4 linked regions of the Homo sapiens genome follow. The protein of the gene in region 1 interacts with the protein of each later gene in a pairwise test. Each region holds a gene or a part of one and is shown in the gene's direction. Other genes may lie near its edges.

Region 1 (7,932 bases):
AGCCTCCCAAGTAGCTGGGACCACAGGTGCCCACTACAACACCCGGGTAATTTTTGTTTTTTTTTTTTTGTATTTTTTTTAGTAGAGAAGGGGTTTCACCATGTTGGTCAGGATGGTCTCGATCTCTTGACCTCGTGATCCACCCGCCTCGGCCTCCCAAAGTGCTGGGATTACAGGCGTGAGCCACCGCGCCCGGCCGAAGCAGTGACTTTTTATAAACAAATTCAACCACGGCAAAGTAGGCAGATGGCCAATTGTTACAGGTAGAGGTTTAGAAATGCAAATTCTCTGAATACTCAACAGATGTCTTCTTGTGATGTTTCTAATTATTTCTGCCTTATTGCGTTGATGCTGTATCTTTTGTTACGGTGTGCGGTGCATATTACTTTAATTTCAATATTACCTCTCCATTGTGTTTGACTTTTTTTCGTATCTTTGTTCGTCATTTATTTTTTAATCATTGTAGGGCATTTGATTTTAAGGTATTTCTTTTGTTCACAGCTTGTGTAAGATACATATTTTTTATTTGAGTGGAAAATCCTTGCCTTTTAATTCCTTCCCACTGCCCCTCCCACCCCCAGCATGGCATTAGGGTTAAGCCTCTGACTGTTGCATCAAACAGCTTAGGGTTCAAACTCCAGCTCTGATACTTTCTGTATCTAATCTCAGATATGCTAATTAACCCTCCTGTGGTCTCAGTTCCCTGATCTGTAAAACAGTACAAGAACTTTACCACTTCATAGATATTTGCGAAGATTAAATGGGTTGATATATGTAAAGTGCTTAGAACAGTGTCTGGCACATCATCAATTGCTTTTTAATGTTTACAGCTAATAAGAGAATGAAATGCATTTATTTTCATAATTAATTGCTTTGGGTTTCTATCATTTTTATGCTTTATACTTTTATTAATTCCTTGTTGTTTCCTATATTGCTTGCTTTTATTTTTTAAAGTGAGTTGGAAGATGTCCTGTTCCTATAAATTCCTAATTTTTAAAGTAAAAAATAAAGCAATTTCTTTTGACTCCATCCTAATATCTAATAAAGAAATAGAATCTGCAATTAAAAACTTTCCCACAAAGAAAACTTTAGCCCAGATGGCTTCACTGGTTCTACCAAATATTTTAAAAAGAAATAATACCAATTCTATACAAACACTTCCAGAAAACTAAAAAAAAAAAAAAAAAAAAAAAAAAAAAAAAAAAAGAAATCCCTACTCATTTTATGAGGCCAACATTACCCTGATACCAAAATTAGAGATCTTACAAGAAAAGAAACTCACAGGCAAATGATTCTTGTGAACATGGATGCAAAAATTCTAAATAAAATTTTAGCAAATAGAATACAACAATGTATAAAAAGCATAGTATATCATCACCAAGTGGGGCTTATCCCAGGAATGTGAGGCTTACTTACCATTCAAAAGTACTCAATATAATTTACCATACTAACAAACTCAAAAAAAGAAAACCATATGACCATTTCAACAGATGCAGAACATTATTTGACAAAATCCAACATCCATTCCTAATTAAAAACTCTCAGCATGCTAGAACTGGAAGGGACTGTCTTCAACCTGATAAAAGGCATCTGTAGAAAGCCTAGAGTTCACATCATACTGAACTGTGAAAGCCTGAATGCTGCTCCTCTAAGATGAGGAACAAAGCAAGAATGTCTTCTCTCACCACGTTTATTCAACATTGCACTTGAGTTCTAGCCAGTGCAGTAAAACAAGAAAAAATAAATAAAAGGTATTCATACTTGAAAGGAAGAAGTTAAACTGCCTTTACTCACAGATGAACATGCTCATCTATGTCAGAGTTGGCAAATTTTTTCTGCAAAGGTCACAATAGAATTTTTGGCTTTATGTCCACGCAGTCTCTGTTGCAACTACTCAACTCTGCCATCATAGCATGAAAACAGCCACAGACAAAAATGAGTGGGTGTGGCTGTATCCTAATAAAACTTTATTTAGAAAAACAGATTGGAGGCCACATTTGATCCATGGATCATAATTTGCTGACCCCTGGTCTATGTCAAAAATCCCATGGAATCCACAAGAAAGCCACTACGACTACTAAGTGAGTTTTACTAGGTTGCAGGAATACAAGATTGATATATAGAAGTACATTGTATTTCTATTAGAAATTTAAATTTTAAAATGATACTTTTTACAGTAGCATCTGAAATATGAAATACTTATGGATAAACTTGACAAAATATATGAATGACCTAGACACTGAAAACTACAAGACACTGCTGAGAGAAATTTTAAAAGACCTACATAAACAGAGAAATATATTGTGTTCACAGGTCAGAGGACTCAATAATGTCATCAATTCTCCCAAACTGGCTTACAGATTCAATACAGTCTCCACCAAAATCACAGCTGCCTTTATTATAGAAATGGACAAATTGACTAAAATCCTTATGGAAATGCATTTCTAAAGTTAAAGCATTTCCTTTTATAGTTAAGGATCCCGGGACACAGCCCAGCTTTGCCTGTTCCCTTCTGCTTCCTGCCACATTGCATGCTGAGTGTTGCAGTTTCTGAATGAGTGTAGGTTGGGAGAACATGATGACAATCAGAGGGGCAGAAAGCTTGCTCTGATGAGTGGCAGTGTCTATGCAGGTGGGGAACACATCAGGGCAGACCCTGCTTCCCAGGGTTAGGCCCACACCGAGATTTGTAACTTCTTGGCCCATGTGTCCTATTTTGGTTCAGATGACAGGGCATACATGAGTTATTAAAAATGTGTTTCTCAATCCATTTCCATCAAATATACAGTTAGTAGAAATTATCCCAATTTGGAGCCTGTAGGCTCTTATTTTTAGTTAACAATGCTGCTTTGCCTTCATTTATTTATTTATCTATTTATTTGAGAAGGAGCCTTGCTCTGTCACCCAGGCTGGAGTGCAGTGCCATGATCTTGGCTCACTGCAATCTCCGCCTCCCAGGTTCAAGCGATTCTTCTGCTTCAGCCTCCTGAGTAGCTGGGATTACAGGCACCCCGCCACCACACCCAGCTAATTTTTGTTTTTTGTTTTTTTTTAGTAGATATGGGGTTTTATCATGTTGGCCAGGCTGGTCTCGAACTCCTGACCTCAAGTGATCTGCCAGCTTGGGCCTTCCAAAGTGCTGGGATTACAGGCGTGAGCCACCATGCCTGGCCTGTTTTGCCTTCTAATACTTTACTACTCATGTGGTTTGTGGACTAGCAGCATCACCTGTTACTCAGGAGCTTGTTAGAAATGCATCATCTTGGGCCCCACCCCAAACCCTCTGAATCAACTCTGCACCTGCAGAAGATCCTTAAGTGATTTGTACGCCAATTTAATTTTGAGTCACATATTCAGATGTATACTAATGGGAAGTTGGGAGTGTGTATATTTACATGTCTACTCAGCTCTGTCCATCAGCACATCTTTATGTCTGCAATGTGGCATTTCAAGATATTCTTCTCTCCAGCAGAAGAGAGTATCCCAGGAAGAAAGGAATCTTCTCTTATTCCAACAGGAACCCTCACTCCTGTTGTTGTTGTTGTTGTTGTTGTTGTTGTTAGAGATATTATTATTATTATGTGCTCTGTTGCCCAGGCTGGAGTGCAGTGGTGAGATCTCGGCTGACTGCAACCTCTGCCTACCGGGTTCACGTAGTTCTCCTGCCTCAGCCTCCAGAGTAGCTGGGATTACCGGCATGCGCCACCATGCCTAGCTAATTTTTGTATTTTTAGTAGAGACAGGGTTTCACCATGTTGCCCCAGGCTGGTCTCGAACTGACCTCAAGTGATCCACCTGCCTTGGCCTCCCAAAGTGCTGGGATTACAAGCATGAGCCACTGCACCTGACCCTAGTTATTATTTTATAAGCATTTTGAATTACTTTGCATGCAGTGCACTCACCTCTCTCCAACACATACACACACACATGTTCACATACACATAGCACACAGATATATACCACACACACACACACACACACACACCCTTATCAAAAGCAGAGACTATCTCTCATAATGAACCATTCTACATTTCCAGGAAAGGTAAAGTGGAGCTCATAACTGTGTCTAATTAATGCTTATTTTATATTTTCCTGTGATCAAAGCAGTGTACATTATTATAGAAAATTTTAAAAATACAAGAAAGGCCAGGTGCGGTGACTAACGCCTGTAGTCCCAGCACTTTGGGAGGCTGAGGCAGGTGGATCACCTGAGGCCAAGAGATCAAGACCATCCTGGCCGACATGGTGAAACCCCCTCTCTACTAAAAATACAAAAATTAGTTGGGTGTGGTGGCGCGTGCCTATAGTCCCAGCTACTCAGGAAGCTGAAGCAGGAGAATCGCTTGAACCTGGGAGGCAGAGGTTGCAGTGAGCCGAGATCCACCACTGCACTCCAGCCTGGCGACAGAGTGAGACTCCGTCTCGAAAAATAAAAAATACAAGAAAAAGGATAAAAAGTACTTATTTCCTATCACTCAGAGATAATCACTGCTGTTTTTAGTGGGGGAGAGGAACTTTTTTGTATTTTCTCAGTCTTTTTCTAACAACTTTATAGTAGTCAATGCATTATATATTAGAGTTTATGTGGGGTATTATTATAATATATAACGGACACAATACATAGGTATTACTATGAGGGCCATAGTTGTACTATATAGTACATAGAGAAAATGCTAGATATACAATTCTGTATTCTGCTTTTTTCTGTTAACATTTGTATTTTTTCTGATTATTATTCATTCCTTGTAAACAACACTTATATGCCTCAAAATATTCCATTAAGCACATAAACCACAGTTTACTTAACTACCCCCTTATTGCAGAACATTTAGAGTGCTTGCATTTTTCATGTTGGTGAGTAATGTGCATGAAAATTATTGTGCATACAGGATTTTTTCTATATATTTTCAGTAATGTCCTCAAGATAGATTTCCGAAGTAAGTCAGGCTGTGCGCTTTGATACATATTGCAAAGTCCAGAACATATTATTTAAAATCACACTTAAAAGCCGAAGCCTTCTAACATAAGGCAGAACTGGTTGCTGCTTTTGCCAGGTGAAGAGAAAACCACCCATTGACAAGACAGAATGGGACAGCTTCTTTGATGAGAGTGGCCACTTGGCCAAATCACGGGACTTCATTTGTGTTAACATCCTGGAAAGGGTGGGTCCCCAAGCTACCCTTGGCCTTGCCCTGGAACTGGGAGCATGGATGGGCAGGGGGCAGGTGTGGCGTTGGATGAAGCCCTTTTGGTAGGCATCGATAGAGCCCATGACCTCCACCTCCCACCCCCACCCCAGGGTCTGCACCCCTTCGTGAGGACTGAAGCCTGGAAATTCCTCACGGGCTACTTCTCATGGCAGAGTTCCCAGGATGAGCGGCTCACGGTGGACAGCATGAGGAGGTAGAACACTCCAGACCCTGCTGGGACAGGAGGGGGGCCTGCAGGTGGCAGGTGCTGCCTCCCCAGCCTGCAGACTATCTTCTGCCCCCATGCAACTTCTTATTCCGAGAGGAACCCCATGCCTCCTGACCCAGGCACAGCACACAGGAGGTGCGGCCAGTTCGTGCCAGTGCCTTCTCTCCCTGAGCTCCATTTACCAGCCCATCAACTGCCAGGCATGGGCTTGGTCCCAGCCACTCCTCTTACCCCTGGGCCCCAAGTCCCATCCTTCCTTATGGCCTATGCATTCTTCCTCTGAAGCAGCCCTTGAACAGAGTCTGCCACCCTCTTCCCTGGGTGCCACCCCAACTCCACCTCCTCCCTGCCCCCCATGGCTGAGCTGCCTCCCGGGTCTAGTCTCCCCACTCCCTGCCTGTGCCCACTGTTTCCTCCCGGTGCCCAGGGGAAGGTACAAAACCCAGTATGGGCTGCCTGTGTCCTTAGATGAAACACTCCCAGTGGTGTAACTGGTAACGTTTCAAATAGCACATCTTCTCTTCCAAAAACTTCCTGATCCTAGCTCCACATCGCCCACTATCCCAGAGCCTGACATTCCAACCACACTGACAGCCTCACTGACTCCTCATCTGCCCACTCCTGCCCCAGCACAGACCACGTTTGCACTCCCCTCTGTCCTTGGTTCACCCTTTCTCCTCCCTCCACAATGGCTTTCTATCATCTGCCTATCAGTAGCCCACCCTTCCTTCAAGGCCCAGATCCCACAGTATACCTACTCCAAGCAGCCCTCCCAGATCTCCCAAGGGAGCCAGGGATGAGGCACTTTGTTTCAGTAGATAACACACCATCTTTGAACTTGGACCGTCTTGGATTTGGAAACCGGGTTCAAATTTCAGCACTCTGATTTACACCCTGGGTAAACTTGCCCATGAACTTCAGTGCTGAAGTCTCAGTCTCCTCCTCTATAAAATGCAGGTAACAATCTATTTCACAGAGTGGTTGTGGGGGCTCAATCAGATAATACAGGTAAGGCACCTTGCACAGGGGAGGAATCAGTAGCTTTTATGATTTTGATGGGAATCCTCCCTCCCTGAAGCCGGAGGCCCTTGACTTGCACTTCCATGACCCTGGGCACTTGGTCCCACAGTAGTGAGAACGGAGCCTGTGTCTTCCCTCCCAGGTTGAATGCAAACAAGGGCAGAGGCTGCAGCCAGTTTGCCTTTGTCTTGGGCCCTCTCCTGACCTTGCCTGTCCATGGGAGGGCTCCGTACACACTGGCTGAGTCAGACTGACTCCACTGCTGAAAATCTTCCCATCAGAGGAACGGACTCCTTTGGATTGTGGCTGCATGACTATGTAGCCTGGGCTGGACTCACCTGTCTGGGAGCCTGAAGCAGGGGCTAGGCCCAGCCCCAAGGGAGCATCCAGACAGAATGTGGAAAAGATTCACGTGTCGGGGCCAGCCAGAGTGACCCGGGGTGGGACGGGGGTGTGAGGGCTGGGCTAGGGAGCTCAGAGAGGTTCAGGAGCTCTGACAAGAGCCCACCTGTGTTCATTTCCTGAGGCTGCCTTAGCAAGTACCACAAACTGGGTGGCTTCCGACAACAGAAACCTGTCTTCTCGCAGTTCTGGAGCCAGAAGCCCAAAATCAAGGTGTTGGCTCCTTCCAAAGGCTCTAGGGTAGAACCCTTCCTTACCTCCCAGCTTGTGTGGCTCCCGGTGTTCCTCAGCTGGTGGCTGCCTCACTCCATTCCCTGTCCCCATGGTGGTGAGACCTTCTGCTTTCTGTGTGTTATAAGAACACATGTCATTGGATTTGGGGTCCACCTGGAAAGTCTTACGGATCTCGTCCGGAGATCCTTGACTTAGTCACATCTACAAAGACTCTTTTCCCCCACATGGTTACATTCACAGGTCCTAGGGGTTAGGACATGGATATGTCTTTTTGGAGGCCACCATGCGGCCAGCAATACCAACTAATCATATTCTAATAATGAGGACAAAACACCGCCTCACTCAGCACTTCCAATTCTGAGGCACAGGTGCCAGTATTATGCCCATTCTACAGATGGGGAAACTGAGGCTTAGAGATGGAAAGTCGTGTCCCCAAGACTTGCCCCCAGTGGCAGACACCCCGTTATTAAGATGTAGAGCCAGGATTCAGGTGCAGCGTTTGGAGTACAGAGCCCAAGAAGTTAAACTGTCTCTGTTCTGCAGTCCAGGTGCATGTTGGAGGACAGTTAGGGTGGCACAGGTTGAGATGAGGGACAGCATCACAGGTAGGGTGCATGGCTGGGTGAGGGTGCTGCCCTGGATCTGCCTGGGGCCTGGTAGCTGCAGCTGCTCATTCACCACTTATCAGAAGGGGAAAAGCCACCTTGTTCAGCCTCAGTTCTGTTCTCACAGGAAGAACTACAAGGCCTTATGCCAAATGTATGAGAAGATTCAGCCCCTTCTGGAAAACCTGCACCGGAACTTCACAGAGACTCGCAATAACATTGGTGAGCAAAGTGGGGTGGAGAGGGCTGGGCA
Region 2 (8,838 bases), on another chromosome or scaffold:
AGGTTGATCCAGGAAGTAAAATGATGTCATTAGGACTCACACTTCGTTTTCTTCTCTCTCAGATCTGCCGTCTCCATGTTAGTTCCATTTTTAGGCATATTCTCCAATGGGGGCAAGATTGTTGCCAGCAGCTTACATTTGATTTTCTCAGCAATCCACATAGATTCATTTTTCCCAACATTAACCCAAAACTCCCAGAACTGACTTTTATTGGCTCTACTTGAGTCATTTGCTTATCAATGAATCCATCACAGAGACTAGGATTCTCTGATTGGTCAAGCCTGGGTCACATATTCACCCCTGGAGTTGGGGGAATTCAGTTCCACTGGAATCATACAGACTAAATATGGTGGAAAGATGCTTCTCCAAGTAACATCAATGTGCTGATCTCAAAAAGGTATAATGGACGCTGAGTAAGCTCTGTGTGTGAGTGTGTGTGTGTGTGTGTGCATGAGAGAGGTGTGAGACATCTAATCACTTGTTGCATTAGACATCCTTTGAAATGTTTCCTCTTCTCTGTTTTGATGAAGTATAGGCACTATCTCATTGTAGCTTCCTATCTAATTTCCTTGCCTGTAGTCATTCTCTCCTCAAATATATTCTAGGCATTGCCAACACAAGTCTTCCTAAAGCATTGTTTTGATCATTTTACTCTCCAGCTCAAAAATCTTTCAGAAACCTTCTTCTATCAAATTCTATATTCTTCAGCCTGGCATTTATGATCTTTCCACAATCTGGCTCCTGCATATCTTTCCAGGCTTATCTATCCACCTGCACTTGTTCCATGAGCCAACTAAGCTGCATTGCTTACCATCTCTGAACACACTGCATGTTTTCCTAACACCGCCTTTGTTCTATTTGTATGTTCTACCCCATCACCATTTCTCTCATCCTAAGTCTCATGCCAGGTGATGAAGTAGAGACTGCTAGTTCTCTTTAATATACGTTCTCCCCTTCTTCATTAGTGTTAGAACCACTGATTTTTAGCTGGGCACATGGCTACCCAATAGAGACTACACTTGACCAAGGGAGCATAGTGTAGTGATGTATACAACTTCTGTAAGTGGCTTAGAATAGACACGTGTGTTCCTTTCTGCCCCTACCTCCTTTATGCTTGCTGGAAAAAGGATATAAGGAACTTGAACAGCCATGATGGATCATAAGGTAGAAGCTGCATTTCAGGATGGTAAAGCCACATGATGGAAGGAGCCCATGGATCTGCTGATTAGAGAGTCACCTACACTGATGTGAGAGTAATACATTTTATTTTCTTTAAGCTACTGTTACTTTGAGCTTTTTAACTGCTACAGAAATCAATCCCTGTATGAAAATATATAGTTTAGGATAATTTTCTGGTGGCAGTAATAGGAATCATTCAAAGCTATGTAAAGCAAAAAAGGGAGAATTATTTTAAGGACAGAAGGATTTCTCACAGAACCTATGGGAAGGGATGAAGGAAGCCTCAGTAATAGAGCGATAGCTGGAATTAAAAAGTAAGGGGAGGCCAGGAAGCCCTCTCACTGTGTCTCATCTCTCCTTCTCTTCCTTCTTACTGAAAATTATTTACACAGTTGTCACAGAGAAGCTACAAATAAATATTTGTTTGATGGATGGCAATTTGTGTGTGTGATAAACTGGATCTAAAGTCAATTCTCAAAACGTTTTGTTATATATATGTAGCTTGTTAAAGTGATTCTTTTGAAGGGGGGAATCATACTTTTTAGAGTCTAAGCTCTCTCTTAAACCCTTTCTCTCAGCTTTCCAATTTTTCCCAGTCACTTATTCCAACATCAGAAAGGGGGCCTGAAATACAGGATTGTCCATAATTAATATCATGACAGACACTTTTGAGATTGCTCTGCTTTTTTACAGGAGTTGCAAAAGTCAGTTTTTATGAGAACACAAGCACTGGCACTCACTGACTATTTTGGCAGACAAGGAAATGATAGATTAATTACTTTTGGTACATTTTTCCCATAACTGTCTTTTTTTTCCATTTCATTTTTGCATTGTTACTATTTACCAGTCTGAGTTCTCACTTACACCTAGTTTTTGCCCTTCAGGGTTTCTTATATTCTTGCCAACTCTTTGATATGCTTGATAAGATGTTTTATATATATTTATATATATTGCTTTGGGTTTGAGAATCAGCCAGAGCCTCTAGTCTGCCATACTACTGGACACAAAAGTTCAATATGTTTTCACTTCATTCGTTTATAAGATATTAACCTGCATTCCAAACACCAGGGCCCTAACTCTGGTGGCCTAAGCTCCCCATCCACAAAAATGAAGAATAACTACCTTTCCACCTGCATCAAATTGTTTTTTGTACAAGACTCATGTAATCATTAACATGAAGTCAGTTTGCAACTGGAAAATACCATGAAAATACATTTTCTTAACTCTGAAAACAAAACAGAGGCAAACAAGTAATAAAAGTTATAACTAAGGGTAACAACCTTAGAATGGTTTGTTCAATTTACAATGTCTATATATTTGCACTCATCTGCTTTTTTTCTGGCCCAAGGTATAAATGAGAAAGTCTTAAGATAAAAAAAAAGCAATATTATTTTATACGTTATATTTGACACTAATTGTATAATTTACATTTTTAAAAAATAAAGAGAAAAAAATAAAGAGAAAAAGGCAACCTTGAGCACACTATAAAATCTTTCACTCTTTTTTTTTTTTTTTTGAGATGGAGTCTCACTCTTGTCACCCAGGCTGGAGTGCAATGGCGCGATCGGCTCACTGCAACCTCTGCCTCCCGAGTTCAAGTGATTCAAGGTTCAAGTGATTCTCCTGCCTCAGCCTCCCGAGTAGCTGGGATTACAGGTGCCAGCCACCATGCCCGACTAATTTTTTATGTTTTTGGTAGAAATGGGGTTTCACCATGTTGGCCAGACTAGTCTTGAACTCCTGACCTCAGGTGATCTGCCCACCTCAGCCTCCCAAAGTGCTGTGATTACAGGTGTGAGCCACCGCGTGCGGCCTTTTGTTTTGTTCTTTTGAGACAGGGTGTCACTCTGTCGCCCAGGCTGGAGTGCAGTGGCGTGATTTCGGCTCACTGCAGCCTCCGCCTCCCGGGTTCAAGTGATTCTCCCACCTCAGCCTTCCAAGTAGCTGGGACTACAGGTGTGTGCCACCATGCACAGCTGATTTTTTTTTTTTTTTTTGGTAGAGATGGGGATTCACCACGTTGGCCAGGCTGGTCTCGAACTCCTTACCTCAAGGATCTGCCCACCTTGGCTTCCCAAAGTGCTGGGATTACAGGCATGAGCCACCGTGCCCATCCAAATCTTTCACATTTTTAAATTTTGTGAAATAGCTGTCCTTTTTATATATGGGTAAGCTATCAAACTTAAGATGCTCACAGCCCTTTACATACTTTGTAGGCTGAGATTCTGAGTGTCTAATATTCTGTAATGTATCTTGGTCTCTGTGCTGCAAGAACACTGAAGTATTATTATAGGTAACAATCTATATCACTCTTCTCAAACAGCGCTAACAGGTTAAGTATTCAAGAGGAACATCTTTCAGTATATTTCAAAAAGCCTCATGGATGGTAGGTGATTTGTAAATGGACCAACGCAGGACTCAGGCATATATGGTTACTGCTTACTATTTCCTATAGATCATGATGTCTTAGGTCTTATGTAGAATATATCATAGGACTTGTCCTCTAAACATTCACATACCAAGACTGCACTCTGCATGCATGCCATTCACTCATTCTGCATTTACTGAGTCAGTCCTACTGCATGTCAGACCTTGTGCCTGTTCTCAAGAAGCTCGCAGTCCAGGAAAATGGAGAAATACAGATACAATTATAACTCTATGTGATAAGTGTTACAAAGAGATACGGTGTTATGGAAGCCCTGGTAGGGGCACTTAGCCCATACTGGAGTGGCTGGGATAGGGCTGAGTGGCCAACAATAGGGAAGGGTTCACAGTGGAATTGATGTCTAGGCTAAATAATGAATAACAAATAATTAGCAAGGCAAGGAAAAGGTAGGAGATCAAGACATAAAAATAAACAGCATATGGAAATACAGGGTTGTATGTGAGTACGGCAAGACTGGGGAGCCTAAGTGGTTTGCTGTATATTTAATTTATTCATTTCACGTAGCTACTATTGACATACTTGTCTCCCTATATATGTTTGAGTCCGTGGATGGTGGGGACTTTGTAATGGTTTCTCTGTCCCTATGTCTAACAGGAGGCACACAGATGGAGTGCAATAAAATGTCTGATGAATAAATGACCAGCTATGAGGTGTAAGGGAGAATAGGAATCCATTAATGAGAAAGGTCATTTCTAGTGGCAATGAATATCAGATAAGATAGATTTAAGAATTATTTAGAAATTAGGATGAATAAGACTTGGTGATATATTGGCGATGGGGTATAAAATAAGAAACACTGGCTTTCTAGGTTTCTGGATTACAGATGCATGATAATAGTTATAATGGTATAATAACAATAGCTAATATTTATTAGGCACTCTGTGTCATGAAGTACGCAAAGTGTTTACATGAATTAAGCCATTTAAACTCTTAATGACTCAGTGAGGCAGGTTCTGTATACTCATTCACTGATGAGAAAATTGGGGCTAGAGAGATTCATTTGCCTAAGGTCACTCAGCTAGCAGGTGGCAGGCTCAAGCCCAGTAATTCTGACTCCAACAACCATACATATAGTCTACTTTTCTTTACTGCCTCTAATAGATGAGATTAATACCCAGAATGATGGTCCTATTCAATAAGTGTATCACACAAATGCACGTTTCTCTTTTGCTAAACATAGAGACACATACTATGACTACCTCTATTATTATTATTTTTTTTTGATTTTTGGGATCTTGGCTCTTTCTGTATTTTTCCTACCTGGAAGACCTAAAGTGGGGTAGAAGTTTGATAAAACAGTTGGCACAAAAGATGAGAGAAGACAGGTACAGACATGACATTCTCGAACGCTCTGGCAGTTGCTGGAATGATGGGATCTGGGTTCTACAGGATTCCTCCCCTCCCATCTCCCGCCACACACACACACGTCGTAAGGTGTATATGGCCGCGGAGTCTCAGGTTGGTTCTAGGAGTCCTCAACCCACGGCAAAGGTGCCTCTTCTCCCTCCTGGAGAGCCCAACATGCTTGAAGTTAACCTGAGGCCGCCTCTCGGGCCCGGCGAAACAGAGCGCGGGCCCGACGAAACAGAGCGCGGGCCCGACGAAACAGAGCGCAGCTCCGGCTCGCGCTGGTTCCCAGGGAAACCGCCCGCGGAGGAACCTCGGGCCAGGGCCGTGACACCTGCGACGAGCCCCGCCTGGCGCCAGGGGGCGCGGAAGCGCGTCCGCCCCCAGGCCCCATGCCGGGCTCGCCCCGCCCCTGCCGGCCACACCCCCCTACCCCGCCCTCCCTCCGTGAGGACCGGCCGCTCCCGGCTCCCGGCCCCCGGCCCCGCTTCCGGCGCAGGCGCAGTCCCGCGTTCCCTCGGCGGCTGCCGGCGTAGTGAGCCCGCCGCCGTGGAGTGTAGCGGAAAGGGCTCGCCGTCCTCCTCCGTTTCTCGCTGCTTCGGGACGCGCTCTCTGCGGCTCTGTGAGCGCCCCTGAGCGCCGGCAGCGGCCGCGGTGGGTTCTTCAGGTGAGTGCGGCCGCGGGAGGGAGAGGCCCGGAGCGTAGAGCACCGCCCCCCTCGGCGCCCGCGCGCCCGCCTCTGGCGAGTCGGCCAGGAGGGGCGGCCGCGGCAGGTGCAGGTGCTGGCGCCGTGCAGGGCGCGGCACGCGGGGGTTCGGGGGGATGCCCAGGCCCGGTGAGCTCGCTCTCCGCCTGGGCACTTGGGCTCCGGGCCCTTGGGGGCGGCGTGTGGGGGGGACTTTGGCGACCCGGGTCAGCCGGCCGCCCCCTGGGCTGCTGGTGGGCGTCGGGCGGCGGCTCCTCCCCCGGGCACGGGCGCGTTACACATTAACTGCGCGGTCCCGCGCGCCCGGGGCAGGGAGCCCGAGTCCAGCGGGTTACCTGGCGGCGGGCGGGCGCGGCCGGGAGCGGAGGGCCGCGGTCGCGAAGAGGATGAAGAGAGAGTTCCCGAACAAGTCGGAAGCAGCTCACAACACCGGACGCCGCGCGGCAGGGCTGTGGACCTGGGGTGGTTTCGTGTCCCAGTCTTAGGAAACTACGCGCGAGGCACCGTGCTGAGGCGTAGAGGTCACCCTCGGGAGGTTTCGGTGAAACCTGGTGGGAAATTCCGGGCAGGCGCCCGGAGTCGCGCCCAAGTAGGCAGCTCCGTGCCGCCAGACTTGTGTTCGGGGGAGTTGAGACGAACTGCACGGGTGGGATTGCATGGCTCTGCCCTCCCAGCGTTGACAACTCGCCCCGACCGCCCAGGAAGCGCGAGCTTACTGGCTCCAGAAGTGATGATGCTGGGTGGAAGTCGCAGCATGTGAAGAGTTGCCGGTTGTTATGGGATTAAAAAAGATGAAAGGGTAAGGTCTTGAAAGACACGAGCGCTGAGTTAGTTAGTACTGATTACTGAGAGGCAATTTAGTTTCATGGAAATGTTGCCTGTTCGGAGGCTACCTGTTATACACTCTCCTGTTTCACCCCAACTCCTTCCGTTCAGTGTCGGGTTAAAAGCCTTGTAATCTCTTGCAGTGGAATGATTGCATAATTGGAGGAGGGGCCCATAAGAGGATTACAACAAAACTGTTCCATTGTAAATCAGTTGAAAGACCCAGTTCTTGTTCATTATCCTTTTTCTCATTTTGTTGTTCATGAAGGTTTTTTTTTCTTCCAGTGCTGAATGACAAATCAAGGAGAAAAGAGGCAGAATAGGGTTGTAGACCAATCGTAGTAAATATTTGATACTGTTAAATATTTCACCAGTTTTATGGGGCCTTGTTCTGTTATCATTTGTTATTTATTTACTAGTACTGTGCATTTTGATAGGACTTTTCATGTTTGGACAGACAGTGTATTCCAGATGCGGCTTATGTGATCTAATCCTAAAGCCCTTGTGGAATTTATAGAAATAAACAGTTATACAATTAAGTAGTCCATTTTTTAACTATTAAATGAAAAGCCATTGCATTTTTTTCCATTACAGTAATGTTACATATTAATGTATACCTTTGTGAACCAAAGTGTTTGATACAACTCTTCCTTCTGTGTTTGGTAAACAACTCATCTGTGGTACTGAATACTTGTAATCTTTCACCAGGATGGCCATTTAATGTTTAGCTGCTTTGTGGGATTTCTGAATAGATCCTATTGTACTTTTTGAATTAGTGCAGTTATCCATATGTTTCCTTTAATATTCTTTACCTTTGATTTTGTCTAAACTCTCATCCTCCCCCAACACACACATCCTCTACAAATAATTTTTAAAATGGAAAGGTTCTTAGAAATGTTTCACCCCCTCATTTTTTAAATATGGCACGAAAAAATACTTTGTAGATTACAGTAGTTTTATATGCATTATAGTAGTTACTATACTTTTTTCCTCCTCAACAGGAGTCAGTGAACAAATTAGTGAGCTGGCTGAATGAAAAATTATTTAATGTTCAGCTCCATCACTTACTGTGCATAAAACCTTGAGTAAAACATTTAACCTGTTTGAGCTTATTTTCTCCATTTGTCAGTGGAAATACTATTAGGTTGAAATTGCTAATATTCTGCTGTTTTTTATGTTTCAACCTAATATGAACTTCATAATGGTAAGATGAGGATTTAATAACATACTCCATTAGAGATGTGGGGAAGGGGAGAAGGAACCAGTGTGAGCTTGATTGTGTGCAAGGCACTGTGTGTGCTTGTTTTCGATACCTTGACTCCTCAGTCCTCTGGACATTCCCGGGATATAGGTGGTTTATCAAATTTTACAAGTCAGGAAATGGAGGCTTAGAAAGTTGCGATAATTTGTCTATGGTTACTTAGTTGTAGGTGGTCGTACAGCTGGCCAGTGACAGAGCCGGTATTAAAAACTGTATCCGACTGCCCAAAATGGAACGTAGTGCTTTTGTTTCTTACATTCCTGGTCTGCACCTTCTATTAAAGAGCTTTGTAACTATAAGGAGGCACACAGATGACAAGTGTTACCATTTGTATTTCTGGTTTAAAAATATCCAAGTTTTCTGAAGACGGTGATACCAGCATTGCTACTACAGTTACTTTTAAGTCTAGTGCTTATCAAGCGAAGTCCTGGTGTAAGCTTTATACTCATTTACTCTCAGAGTGAGCGAGGAGATAATACTTTATCCCTATTTTGTAGTTGAGAAAATTGAGACCCTGAGACCTTATGTAGTTTGCTCAACGTCACATAGTTAATTAAGTGACAGGTCTAGATTAGATGTCAGACAGTTTGTCTTCCATGTCTGTGCTCTTAACCACTACACTCTGTCATTTCTTCATGTATAAGTGGTAATGCTAAAGAATTGTTTGCTCATAATCACTACATTATCACTTCTTTATGTGTAGCTTATAATGCTGAAGAACTTTGTAATTTAGCTTTTATGAGATACGTAATGTTAATGTAATATGTAATTCTCATTGTGTCACCAGAGATTTTTTTAAATCAAATACTCATTGAGCATCTACTCTGCAAGTCACAGTAGGGGTTAAAGGAAACTGTTCTTAAGGAATATGGAAGGTAGGGCCTTATAATCATTCCCATATCTTTTATAAGTTCTTCAAAATGTAGAACGCACTTTACATATTTTAATGAATGTCAACTAAGACAAAGTGCTAGGATAGTTGAGTAGTGGAGAGGAAGGACAGATGGATAGTGGGTAGAGATATTTGTGCATTGAGGTAATGAGGGAAAGCTTTGAAGATATTCCAAGGGAGTA
Region 3 (5,740 bases), on another chromosome or scaffold:
GGTGGGCATCCGCAGCCCAGACCATCCACTCCAGCCTCCCCCGGAAACCGAGGACTGCCTCTGCCACCACCCGTGTGGGCTGTGCTCGCCTGGGCCAGAGCCCACCTGGCCGTGGAGGCCTGTTTGAGGACCCATGGCTGCTCCGGGTAGGGGAGTGTGATACCCAGGCAGCTTCTGCTGGCAGGGCCCCCAGCCCCACACTTGGCTCCCCCCGGCTGCCTGAGGCCCAGGTGATGCTAGCCTGTGCCCAGAGAGTGGTGGACGGGTGTGAGGTGGCAGCCAGGGCGGCCCGCAGGCCAGAGGCTGTGGCTCGGATCCCACCGCTGCGGAGGGGTGCCACCACGCTGGGTGTGACAACGCCAGCTGTGTCCTGGGGAGATGCTCCCACGGAGGTGGTGGCCTGCTCGGGGAGCCTGAAGGCCTCCCCCACCAGCAAGAAGGGTCTGGCTCCCAAGGCGGGCTTCCTCCCGAGGCCCAGTGGGGCGGCCCCCCCGGCCCCACCCACGCGGAAGTCCAGCCTGGAGCAGAGGAGCAGCCCGGCCTCGGCCCCTCCGCATGCTGTGAACCCGGCGCGGGTCGGGGCTGCTGCTGTCCTTCGAGGGGAGGAGGAGCCCAGACCCAGCAGCCGGGCTGACCACTCTGTCCCCAGGGCCACGTCCAGCCTGAAGGCCCGGGCCAGCAAGGTAGAAGCAGCACACCGTCTTGCCGGACACGCGTCTCTGGAGCGGTACGAAGGCCTGGCGCACAGCAGCAGCAAGGGCCGGGAAGCCCCTGGGCGGCCTCCCCGGGCTGTACCCAAGCTGGGTGTGCCACCCTCCAGCCCCACACACGGTCCAGCTCCCGCCTGTAGGAGCGGCGCAGCCAAGGCTGTGGGGGCCCCCAAGCCCCCTGTTGGTGGAGGCAAGGGCCGTGGCCTAGTGGCTGGTGGGTCGCGGGCTCTGGGGCCTTCGGTGAAGCTGTCTACGGCCTCTGTGACGGGCAGGAGCCCTGGCGGCCCTGTGGCCGGTCCCAGAGCAGCCCCACGGGCCGGGCCCAGTGTCGGGGCGAAGGCTGGCCGGGGTACCGTCATGGGCACAAAGCAGGCGCTCCGGGCTGCTCACAGCCGCGTCCATGAGCTGTCAGCCAGTGGAGCCCCGGGCCGAGGTGGCTCCTCGTGGGGCTCGGCGGACTCAGACAGCGGCCATGACAGCGGCGTGAACGTGGGGGAGGAGCGGCCACCCACGGGCCCGGCCCTGCCCTCCCCCTACAGCAAGGTGACCGCCCCACGGCGGCCCCAGCGCTACAGCAGCGGCCATGGCAGCGACAACAGCAGCGTGCTGAGTGGAGAGCTGCCGCCCGCCATGGGCCGCACCGCCCTTTTCCACCACAGCGGTGGCAGCAGTGGCTATGAGAGCCTGCGGCGCGACAGCGAGGCCACCGGCAGCGCCTCCTCCGCCCCTGACTCCATGAGCGAGAGTGGGGCTGCCTCCCCAGGCGCCCGCACCCGCAGCCTCAAGTCCCCCAAGAAGAGGGCCACAGGTGGGTGCAGAGGTGCACAGCCCTCTACAGTTTACGGGCTTTCTGTGTGTAGATGTGCACAGCCCTCTACAGTTTACAGGGCCAGGAGATGCTGGACAGATGGGCACAGCCTTCAAGGTCCCAGACCCACACAGCCGTGGACGGTTTACAGACTCGCCTGGGGCTTTTTGTGTGTGGAGGTGCACGGCCCTCTGCAGTTTATAAACCCCCTGTACTTGCCCTTCTCTGGCCCCACCCTGCCCTGGGGGGCTGATCCTGGTCTGTGTCTGGGTGAGCACAAGGGCAGCCCTGCACAGGTCGCCAGGCTGGGGCACTGGACTCGGGTTTGGGTCCCGGGCCTCGTGCCTCCCTGGCGAGTGTCGAGCTGCCTGGAAGGCCCCCGCCAGGGCTGCCCCAAGGGACAGAACTGCTCAGGTCATGGCAGGGAAAGTGGGAGGCCCTGGTGGTGGTGGGGGCGCCCTTGAGAGCTGTGGGCCTGGCTTGGGGTCGGCTTCCTCCCTGCCCTGGGCAGAGCGCCAGCCTGAGGATTCCTGGACTGGATCCCGAAGGCCTCCCTGTCAGGACTCGGGCCGGCTCCGCAGCGTCCCCGCAGGGGCTGTGCTTGGGCTGGGCCCCGCCTCTGTTCACCCTGTGCCCGGCTCTCCGTTCCAGGTCTGCAGCGGCGGCGCCTGATTCCCGCCCCACTGCCCGACACCACTGCCCTGGGCCGTAAGCCCAGCCTCCCCGGGCAGTGGGTGGACCTGCCCCCGCCCCTGGCTGGCTCCCTGAAGGAGCCGTTCGAGATCAAGGTGTACGAGATCGATGACGTGGAGCGCCTTCAGCGGCCCCGCCCCACCCCGAGGGAGGCCCCCACCCAGGTAGGGCCTTTGGTGGGCTGGGGTCTATGACCCCTGGTGGGGAGCCTGCCGCGGATGGCAGAGTGAGCCATTTGATGGGCTCGCCAGGCCTCTGGGGGTGTGGCTGGGCAGCCCCTGACCTCACTTTCTGTCCACGTTCCTCCCAGGACGCAAAGGTAGGAGCGGCCCTGCCCAGCCCAAGCCTGTTGCAGCTCCGACACTCCCCTTGGGCAGTGGGTGGGTGGCTGGGGGGTCCTGAGGCCACTGCTGCTGTCCGCTGGAATTCTCCCCTGTCGTGGGGAGGGTGGTCCTAGAGCCGAGCCAGGACCCAGACGGGCATGGGTGGGCTGCCCCAGGTCCGCCCCCTGCCCGCCCTTGGAGCCCCACTGTGTGCCTGCCAAGGCCTGGCAGGTGAAGGGAGGCGGGGGCCACATCAGGGCTGCTTGGGGGTCTCTGGGGAGAGGGTCCCATGCCTGAGCCCCCGCCCGCCCTGCCTCCCAGGGTCTGGCGTGCGTCAGTACAAGGCTGCGGCTGGCGGAGCGCAGGCAGCAGCGGCTGCGGGAGGTGCAGGCCAAGCACAAGCACCTGTGTGAGGAGCTGGCCGAGACCCAGGGCCGGCTGATGCTGGAGCCTGGCCGCTGGCTGGAGCAGTGTGAGTCCCGCCCGCCCACGGACCCAGCCCGGCCCACCGTGTGCCCTGACAGCTGCCCTCCCCTCCCAGAGCCCTGTTGCTCTCCTGTACCTCGTGGTGGGAAGGCTGGAAGGCAGGGTCGGCCGGGCCAAGATGCCTTTCCTGGGGCCTCTGGGGGGCCAGGTGGCTGCCCCCAGCCTCGGGCCTGACGCAGGTGCCCCTCCCCTCTCCTCCCCTCCCCAGTTGAGGTGGACCCGGAGCTGGAGCCCGAGTCGGCCGAGTACCTGGCGGCCCTGGAGCGAGCCACGGCGGCCCTGGAGCAGTGCGTGAACCTGTGCAAGGCGCACGTCATGATGGTCACCTGCTTCGACATCAGCGTTGCAGCCAGTGCTGCCATCCCGGGGCCGCAGGAGGTGGACGTCTGAGGCTGGGCGCCGGACAAGAGGAGGGGGCGTGCAGCGGGCTGGAGGACGGGACGTGGGACGGAGCGAGGATGTGGTGGGGGCTGCGGGGGGAGGATGCGGAGGGGTTTCTGTGCAGGACGGGAGTCTCAGAGAGGAGACGGAGTGTGGGGGAGGGAGGGCCGGCCACGCGGTGGACAGAGCGAGGGTGCCAGGGTGACCAGAAGACCGTCACCACCCGACAGCAACGCAAGTGCCTTTGACCTTGATTTGGACTTTTCTCCCTTTTGCATTTGGTGCTACAGACTTGAGACACCAGCAGAAGTTGTGTTCAGCCCGGCCCCGCTGCGCCTGTCCGGGCCGGGGCTGGCGCCGGTTGTGTTTGTGTCCACCTTGCCTTCTTTGCAGCCAAGCAGTTTTTGTGGAGTGGAGTGGGACTTACCTGCACGCCCCAGGGGTCTTTCAGGATTCAGGATGACTTTTCTTTTACAATGGTTTCCTCTCGGCAGAGCCCGGGTTGTGGGGGATCTGTGTGGGGTTCTCAACGCAGATCCATCCTGGGGTCTCCCGGGCAGGGATGGCTGACCTCGAGTCCCCTCCCTTCCCGAGAACCCGCTCTGTCCCGAGGGCAGCTAACAAGGGCTGAGCCCCAGGTACAGGTTGCCTCTTCCACGGCAGGAATTTTTACCAAAACCACAAGCAAAAAACAAAACAGACCACCACGACCAACAACAAAGATGGGGGGTAGGGTTTTGTAAAGGTTCTGTTAGGTTCATATTTTTATATCATTTTGCCCATAAATGCGGAATTTGCCGTGGGAATTTGAAGACAAATGATCTATGTTTTTATGGTTTTCTAGGGAAGGTGTTCTGGGGGCCGGGCTCTCTCCAGCTGTGGGAGGCCTGCTCCCTCTGGGGGGCACCCTGGGCAGGGTGGGGGGGCCTTGGGAGGCGCTTCTTGCCAAATGCAGACGAGGGGTGAGCCTGCCAGCGTTTGCGACGTCCCCGCACGACAGGCTCATACTTTCTGAGGATCGTGCATAGCATAGGACGTCTGAACCTTTGTACAAATGTGTAGATGACATCTTGCTACAGCTTTTATTTGTGAATTAAAGATGCATCGATGGTTCCCACGGCTGCCGAGTTCACTGGGCGTCGGCAGACTCCTCACGCCCTGGTGTGCCGCCCTCTGAGGGTCCCTGGGGTGACGGGCAGTAAGCGTGGGAAGGACACATCCACGGGGACCCAGGGCTTCGGGTGCTGTGCCAGGGCCTGCCTTGCAGCCCCTGTGGGGCCCACGGTGCCATGAGGGCCCTTCAGAGAAGGTGGAACACGACAGAGCTGGGATTCAAGCCCACGCTTCCTTTCTGATCTGCTTTCTTGTTGACTCTGCTGAGATCTTAGGGTCCCGAGGCTGGGGCAGGGAGCCAGGCTTGGGGGCTGGGCTGGCGGGAAACAGCCCTGTGTAAGCGGCCCCTGGCTCCCTTGTCTCTGGGTTATGCTGTGTGGGGAAGTCGAGGCAGGAGTGATGGCAGCATTTCCCTCCCAGAGTCTTCTTGCCATCCTCTGCCCTCTGCCTACCTTTGCTCATGGGCTCAGGACCCCCGAACCACAAGAGCCCCCTCCCGGGGCAGCCTGGATGGAGGCTCTTCCCTGGAGGACTCAGGCCTGGGTCTGTCTTGACCCCAGTTTGCTGGGCTTTCCCGTGGTCAGAGGCCCCAGACCCTTTGGGGGATCCCCAGCCCTTTGACTGCTGTGAGCTCATGGCCTCACCTGACCTGTACATGTGCCCTCTGGGGCCACCTTAGCTGTTGCTCTGGTTGCCTCCTGGCCTCTTCGGAGTCCTATCTGCTTCTCATTTGGTAGGTCCCCAGCGGAACTAGTTTGCTTCCTTAAGCCTGTTACTCTGTCCCCATGCCAGTACCCCCCGCCTGCCTGGCCTGCGAAGGTTGTGTCTGGGCACCTGCCCCTTTCTGCGGCTTTGCACTGGCTTCCAGCTGCTCCACTCCACCTTCAACCCGAGGTCCTGGCCATGAGGCCCCACCATCCCCCGTGCTGTGATCCCCTGCCCAGAGGCTGGCTGTGCAGCCCCTCCCTCCCTTGGGGACTCCCCCTGTCCCCGGCTAGGTGCCCCTCCCTGGCTCCAGGCGGGGGATGGTGGGGCCCCTCCTTGGTGGAGGCTCCTAGGCCTCTCTGCCATGGCACGTCACACCTTGTGCGGTCTCTGCCTGTCTCCCGGCCTGGCGGGGTCTGAGTCATCACCTTCCCCGATCCTGGGCACAGGGATAGGCCCAGCAGGGCTGAGGAGACACTGGCTGAAGAAGGAATAAAAGAATACGTGAATGACAGCATCCC
Region 4 (7,932 bases), on another chromosome or scaffold:
GTATAAATTCCACTGGGGATTTTTATGCAGACACTCAGTTAAGAACTGCCTTATTGAGAGGCCATCTCAAGCCACTCAGGCAGATCAATATATGTAAATATTAGTTTTCATGACCTCAGTGTCTTTCCTAACACCCTTCTGTGGCTTTCCTATTACTAAAGAATAAAGTCAAAATGAAGCTTATCATTCAAGACCAATTTATGGTCACCCCAGTTTATCTTGTTAAGTCTGTTTTTTATCATTCTTTTTGATAACTGTTTTCCTATCAGACTGAAATTGCAGTCTAACATCATTTTTCAACCACCCTACTTCTCTTATGATGATCTAGAATGTCCTGTTCCCTTACCCCTTCATCTTCTCCTTCATCTTTTATCTTCTAAACTGTCTCTCAAAAAGGTTTACCTTCTCAATAAGCTTTTCCTAGTGTCCTCAGCTAGAAGTCACATTCCTTCTTTGAACTCCAAAACATTTATGTACTTTATTTTTTGCACTGATCCCTGATTGTTTTATCTCCAGACATCTTTCTTCCCTACTAAAGCTTCTTGCTGACTGGTTCTGTCTGTGTATGCCACCACCACTCTCTCAGTAGCGTGGGTGCCTGCTTGCTACATAGTATGTGCTGGGTTTCCGTGTCCTCCTGCCCCTTGCCACTTGCCCCTTCTGATTTCAGGAAAACTGATTTGCATTTTTACAATGCGTAGTGAAATGTATAAAAAATGCTGCTGGTATATTAAACTGGTCTTAAGTCATTTTCTGTAAAATGTCAAATTTCTTACTTTTCTTGCATTTTTTAGGGTCCCAGAAGAAAAATAAGAAATTCTACATTTGGCTTTGACAGGCTTCTCATTTATAACTAATGTTTTTGTGATAAACACAGGGCTCAGAGATGTCAGGCTAGCTTTTCCTTTTGTAATATTTGCTAGATGTGGTATTTATTGGGAGACTATTCTCCATGGGTCTCTCACATGTTATGCATGTCTTGGCAAGCAGAGATACAGACTGACTGCTTTTTTTCCTGGACTATCATTTTCAAGGATGTTTATATAACGAGCAGCCTTGCAAGACAGAGATAGTATTTCTCTTCAGAGCAAAGAGCAGGTTTGCTTATGGTCCAGTATAAAAAGTGTCTCCTTCCAGAGCATGTTTACATAGAGTTTATAGTAAGTAAGGATAATGCCACCCTCCAGTGCAAAGAATGGGCATGCTTATGCCCATTATAAAATATTTGAGTTCCTTTTAAGCTCAGGCTCTCTTTCCTGTAACACAACCCATTGCATGTGTAATTGTTACCTGGCCCTTCTATCGCACCCCATGGAAATTGGGGCATGGGGAACTGGCTTAAATACTGACACTGGCTACTGCTATTTCCTTGAGTAGTGAAGTTCTTTGTCTCTGACCTGGGGTCTTGTGTCTTCTGCCAGTATCCATGAAACTGGCAGAATAACTTGTTAGCTTACAAGTAGGGTAAAATCTCAGACCCTTCACAGTTCTTAGTAATAATGTTAAAGCTGCTGTTTTCATACCTGCAAAATCAGCCCTTCTGTAAGTAACTCCTGTTAAGTTTGGATGAGATTAGAATTTAGGTGCCTTATGACTATATACTTTATTTTTCCCCCTATTCTTTTTCATGAAAATAAATTACTCGAGTTAAAGGACTGTCATTCTGAGATTGTCCTTCTGTGAAATAATGATATTAGTGTTGTTCTCTTTCTCTCTTTTCCCCAAATAAAAGCACTGCTGTTTTATGAGGATGAGCTACACTGACAAGCATGTTGATTTGTTTACTTAAAGCTGAAGTTTGGAGTACATATTGTCTTAAAATGAGAAATGGGGTATTTGGGAGGACATTTTTTTAAAATTCGGGTATAACATGACTTTTTAATGATAAATTAGATAAATAATAAAACATGTTGGATAATGATAATGCTAAGGGAAAAGAAAATGAAAGAGGATACGATTGTTTGGGTGGACAAGACAGTTGAAATTTTAGATAATGTTGGCTACAGAAGGCCTTACTGGTGGCTTCTGAGTAAAGAACTGAAGTAAGTTTGGAGATGAGCCATGTGATTTTCTGGAGGGAAGGCATCTGGGTAGAGGGCACAGCAGTGCAAAGGCTCTGCAGCAGAGTGTGCCTGATGGGAGACATTGAGGAGGCCGGTTTGTGATGCTTTGAAAACAGATAATGAGAGGGTTGGAGTATTAACCTTTGTCTTAGCTGTGTTTCTATACTTTACCCCAGAGCATTTGCTTTTATGTTTATATATTAATCACCTTTCCATTTGAGAAATGAGATTCCTTTCTTTAAAAACATTTTGAAAACTACAGAACTAGATAACTTGTCTTCCAAACTATTCTTAGTTCTCATTGACAGTCTCTGTAGGTGCTTATTTTTCAACAGTCAATTTAAGTCCCAGTCTCACATTGGTGTGTTTTTTAATTCAGCAGGTATTCGAGAGCTATATTCAACCCTACTTTATGTGGTTTATTTTTAAGCCCCCACATGATTATATTCCTTGCTTCTGTTGAAGAGAAGAGGCTGAGACAGCTTGGAACAGTTGGAGAATAATATAAGATAACATTCTACCTAAAACCTTTCTAGCCAAGGTTGCTTCTTACCCTTTGTTACCAAATATAAAAGCTAGTTTTCAACTCTTGTTGGCCTCTTAATATTAGGACCATACATTTCCTTGAAACACCATCCTGTCACTCTGGTTGCACCATTTCTCTTTCTCAAGGATTCCTCATTCCTTGAGTTTATGCCTTAACTGCTTCTTCTCACTCTCCTTAATCTCTTCGGATGCTTCTATCTACTATATGGCTTCAGTTACCACCTATAGGTTGTTGATTCTCATATCTAAATTTGTAGTCTAAACCCCTCTCTTGAGCTGAATTGTTAGCATTTGTAATTAGTTGGCTTTTTACATATTCATTTTTATATTTAAAGCAATTTGATATCTTTTACCTAAAAAAAAAAAAAAAGCTAGTTCTTCCTCTCTTTACTTTGGTATAATAGTATTCTTGTCCAGTTGATTAAGTTATAATCTTTATGTTCGTGACCATTAGTCAAAAGCTATCAGGTACGCACCTGTAGTAAACAAAGTTAGGTTTATTGATGCTTTCTGCAGCAAGGGAAGCCACATACCATGGGGAAACCATGAAATGTCGGTAAGATGATGTTGGACAGACTTAGAGAATGTGGGCTTTTGTTGGGTAATTTTGGGGAGGATTCAGGGAAGTGATGAAGGTTTCCTTTGGATTGGATGCTGTGAAGAAGTGGGGATAATTCTATGATTGGGTATCTTCATAAATCTTATCTAGGAGGTGACAAGAACAGAGTGACGCTAAAACTAAATGGTAAAGAAGCAGCAGTCACTTGTGCAAGATGGGATTTTTTGTGGTTTGCATGGAGTCCTTGCTTTTGTCTGTTCTCAGACGCAATTCCACAGTGGCTTGGGTTTGCCTCACTTCCATCATAGTCTGATGTTAGTGATCTGTGAGATCTTGTTTGACAGAAAAATGCCACAGTCTAGCTGTGAGTGCTGAGCCACCTCCTAGCTGTGAAGGGCTGCATTTCTCTCTCTTTCTCACTTATTTGGGATAGATGTAGATTAGGTGGCATTTAGACAATAAGAAGATGTATTTTAGGGTATTTGAACAAATAATTTACATGCTATTGGCTATGTGTGAGGGGCAGTAAAGAAAATTATTATACTGGTAATGTATCAGTAGGATCTAGTGTTATGTTGAAGTAGAGATCACTTGGTTGTTTGTTCTTTATGTATCAATCATACATGGGGCCTTTTATAGCTAAATGTTTGAGTACTTAACTATTTGCCAGACACTAAGTACTTACATGTTCCCTTTTAATCTTTCAAGTAAGTTGAGTCAGAAAGGAAGGATGCATATTCCTGTCTTTGGGAATAAGAACCAAACTGGAAATCCAGGTGTGGCTAGTGGTGTAGACTGTTAAGTAATGTTTAAGAGTGTGAGTTTTAGCATAATAGATTGAATTGATTAGATACAAATGGTTAATAAATTTTAAAAAATAGCCTGTGACAATGTTCAGGATGACTAGAAACTCTTGGTTTTAGGTATTTATTTGGCTTTCCCCATAACGTAGGCCCAAATGTGTAATGTGAAAACAAAAAAGACTAAAGCTGCCAGGAAAGGGTACAAGTTGTGGTGGTAAGCTGTAAAGAATTTGGCTTTAAGTTAAAATAAATACATATTAGAAATATTGTGATTAAAAACTATGCTGAAGTTAGGGATGAAATTACTTTGAATACATCAAAAATGATAGATGGATAGATATGTGATGAATAGCAAAATGCTAATTGTAGAATCTAAATGGTGGTCACATGGCTGTTCACTGTGAAATTCTTTCAACCTTTGTGTATATTTGAAAGTTTTAATAATAAGATATTGGGGGAGGGTGGAGGTATAAACTATCTGCTAAAGTCTTCTCTCTGACCTGAGATACTTGTTTTCTCTGTAGGAACTTTCCGCTGTACTTTTTGCCATACAGAGGTAGAAGAGGATGAATCAGCAATGCCCAAAAAAGATGCACGCACACTTTTGGCAAGGTTTAATGAACAAATTGAGCCCATTTATGCATTGCTTCGGGAGACAGAGGATGTGAACTTGGCCTATGAAATACTTGAGCCAGAACCCACAGAAATCCCAGCCCTGAAACAGAGGTGAGTGTAGGCCCTGTGCTCTTACTAAGAACACATTTCAACCTGTTCTTGTTTTAACTACCTGTACCTTGGAGAACAAGAGTGGGTAATTTACTAGGAGACTCAAGACTGTAATGTTACGTAGGTTCTCAGTTGTGCCACATTTGTCTGATTAACGTGTGCCTGTGATGAAATTCGTTTGTTCTAAATGCAGAACACTGTGGACTTCAGGCAAAAATCTTTAAATATTTAGGTTTGACTTCAAGTACTCATTCTGCTTGGGACTGCAGCAACTCAGCCAATTGTTAGCTAATCCTAAATTAGTTGTGCCGCTTGGGGATATTTGAATTTTCCTAGCCAGCTTCTGAAGGCTGAAGGCCTTTAAGGAATTCAGCATTTTCTTTTTTGTTTTTGAAGCATTTTAATCACCTTTATTTCTTAGTTGTAATTGCAACTTCCTTGAAAGTAAAGTATAGCTGGTGTTACCTATGGGTTAATACTCCTAACAGTGGCTCCCTATTTTTATCAGTGTTCCCTAATGTTTGAATTTCAGAGGTAACCTTAGTTTTGCCATGCCAGAAAAGGTGGTTTATATTCTTTCTTGAAAAGCATAAATGAAAATTGGGGTCAGGGAGTGCTCTCCTACTCTACCCTTTTTTTTCTCTCCCTCTTCCCAGCATCAAGTAAGGGATATCTTTATTTAACCTTCACTTCACCCACTCCCTTCCAAAGAGCTCAACAATCAGGCTGTATTTGTATAGTTTTTAGGAGCATTCTTAGTATTTTATTTCCTGTGGTACTGATGTTACAGAATAGCCAGTCCTGAGTAAATTGGGCTCCTTTTAGATGGTTCAAAGCAATCCAATTCTACAGAAAATTTTGTATCTGTAAGAGTTATGAATTTTCTAATCCAGTACCGTGTGTCAGTTAGGATGCCTTTGCCTGTGATAACAGAATATCCAGCTCTAGTTGGAATTAGAATCCAGTCTAGCAGTAGATTGAACAATAAGAAAATTTGTCTTGCATGACTAGAAGTCTTGAAGTAGTACAGTTCAAAACTGGTTAATTTCACAGCTCAATTATATCTTCAGGGATCTAGATTTGTTCCATCTTTATACTCTGCTGAACTCAGCCTGTTGATTATCCTCTTGGGACCATGAGGGGAGCTAGTCTAATATGGCCATGTATTTCTAGGTATCACGTGCAGATGACAATGTCCAAATGCAGAAAAAGGGACCGTCCCTTCCTTGTGTCCTATTTTAAAACTGAAGAAAGGTTTCCCAGAGGGCTCCCTAGGATACTCTATTTATCCCCTGATGTCTCACTGGCTGCAATTGTTTTATATGCATATTTCTAAACCAGCAGCTGGCAAAGGAAATGAGATCACATGACTGGTACTTAGACTAGTTAAGGTTTACCTTCTAGGACTGGGGAAGGTCCCAGAGTTCTTTGGAGCAAATTGCCATTGGTATTTTAATAAAACCAATAAGCAAAGAAAGAAAGGAGCCACAGTTGATAGGAAACTAATAACATCTGTATCACAGATAGCCTTAACTTTTGGTACTGGTTATTTATTTCTTTTTGTGTAAGAAAAGGAATTCCTCTTTTGAAAAAGGAATTTTTCTTTTTGTATCTTTTTCAGTCCTTTTAAGTTATATTGTAGCTCTAACATACAAGCTTATGAGGGAAATTGATTTTACAAAAATACAAAATTTTCTAAGCTTATGGATTATTTCATGTTGAAGTATGCGTCAGTGTAGTATCTGATTGCTTCCTACACAATATACTATCTGAATTATTCTGATGTTTCCTCTCCTACCTGTAGTTATTTGTCCTGTTTATCAAGATGCTTCCCCACTACAATAGCATTCAGTCACCACCACCACTGGCTTCCTGTCTCTAATGTTCTCCACCTACCACAATCCAGCTCCCCTTCCAGGATCTTTATTTCCATATCCCCCACTCACTGCAGGCCTTGGATGAGTCTTAGTGGTACAGTGACACCAGAGGCCCAACAGCAGCTCTCTGTATCAAGTCATCTTCTTCTTATCAGGAATGATGGTGACTCCAGGGATGAAGAAGAACCAGGAAATAGAGGAAATAAACTGATCAGGAAAAAAGGATACCCAAAAATCTGGTCATTAAGAAAAAAGGGAGGAAATGGAGGCAGACAAGAAAGACAGAATGGGGTTCCTAGAGCTGCCAGCCAGACCAAAGTAAAATCATTTCCACGTGGTCAGGAAAAAAACCATTAGGTTAGAAGATGTTACCCAGGTTATAATGTCCCCACCAAAGCATTTGACAAATTCCACTGCTTGGATATAACATCCTGGAGGTGGTATTGATTTGGCCTTTCTGTACTATAGGAGTATGAAGTTTTGAAATGGCCCATCCTGCCCCAAGGATGTAATAGTCCATCCTGCCTCAGTACAAGAGAAGAGGCATCAATAGAATGGTATGGGAACTCAGAGATGATAGCTTTTCTTTTTTTAAATAAGTGGCAATATTATTAGTTTGATTACTGATCTGTAATCAGTTAAATTCTAGCTTGTCCCTAGATCAGAAACTAGGGGCTACCTCTGCAGAACTGTCAGTAGGCCTAACCCAAGAATTGATGGACAATTCTATCCTTTCAGCAAGTCAACCTATTGATGAGATATAAAAATCTTCCTATCTTTCTAGAGTGGAATTCCTTGCTAGTAACCTTCCCTTTTTCATCATCTCTTAACACTTACCTTAAAGATTTTTAAAAATTTAGTTTTGAAATAATATTCCCCTCTCATCTCTGAGTAAGAGTTGTATCTTTTAAAAGTTCTAAAATTTATTAAATAATATAAAAAGATTCAAACATGAATTGTCATTTTTGTCATCTTCAATTAAAATTGTTCCAAATTTTAAAATTTGTTTGACTTATGGTCAAATGTCTGCTGCCTCAAACTAGAATAAAACCCATCTTGAATTTCTATGACAGAATACTAAAAACAAAAGACTTTTTAAAAGTACTCTTGTGTTAACATTTATTTTAATTCTGTTCTTTTCTCTCTAGCTTTCTTGTTTTTCTCAAAGTACTCCTCATACCTTCATAAGACAGTCTTTGTAGTCAATGCTAAAGATAGAGAATAGAGAAAAACTCTGTGTTCAGGATTATATATAAAGAGAAGCAGTAACCTCAGAGTGAGTGAGTCATTTAAGTCTGAATCAAGGAAAGATAAGGATGTGGTTGGCCAGATCAGAGAAATATGCCTATTCTGTCTCT

What was found.
Region 2: the proteins of TBC1D21 (region 1) and RAB3IP interact in binary tests that used the Homo sapiens proteins (3 or more experiments, as listed by UniProt).
Region 3: the proteins of TBC1D21 (region 1) and KIF26A interact in binary tests that used the Homo sapiens proteins (3 or more experiments, as listed by UniProt).
Region 4: the proteins of TBC1D21 (region 1) and GTF2E1 interact in binary tests that used the Homo sapiens proteins (3 or more experiments, as listed by UniProt).

The regions. Positions count from the first base shown.
Region 1 is NC_000015.10:73,876,345-73,884,276, forward strand, and holds part of TBC1D21 (TBC1 domain family member 21), read left to right. Parts: intron 1-5,054; coding exon 5,055-5,162; intron 5,163-5,299; coding exon 5,300-5,403; intron 5,404-7,806; coding exon 7,807-7,901; intron 7,902-7,932. UniProt on the Homo sapiens protein: Acts as a GTPase-activating protein for Rab family protein(s). Essential for the establishment of male fertility, and is required for both the production of normal sperm number and sperm function.
Region 2 is NC_000012.12:69,733,393-69,742,230, forward strand, and holds the start of RAB3IP (rab-3A-interacting protein isoform alpha 1), read left to right. Parts: upstream 1-5,467; 5' UTR 5,468-5,639; intron 5,640-5,988; exon of another isoform or gene 5,989-6,454; coding exon of another isoform or gene 6,455-6,477; intron 6,478-8,838. UniProt on the Homo sapiens protein: Guanine nucleotide exchange factor (GEF) which may activate RAB8A and RAB8B. Promotes the exchange of GDP to GTP, converting inactive GDP-bound Rab proteins into their active GTP-bound form.
Region 3 is NC_000014.9:104,176,381-104,182,120, forward strand, and holds the end of KIF26A (kinesin-like protein KIF26A), read left to right. Parts: coding exon 1-1,518; intron 1,519-2,169; coding exon 2,170-2,375; intron 2,376-2,855; coding exon 2,856-3,006; intron 3,007-3,228; coding exon 3,229-3,410; 3' UTR 3,411-4,514; downstream 4,515-5,740.
Region 4 is NC_000003.12:120,766,233-120,774,164, forward strand, and holds part of GTF2E1 (general transcription factor IIE subunit 1), read left to right. Parts: intron 1-4,495; coding exon 4,496-4,697; intron 4,698-7,932.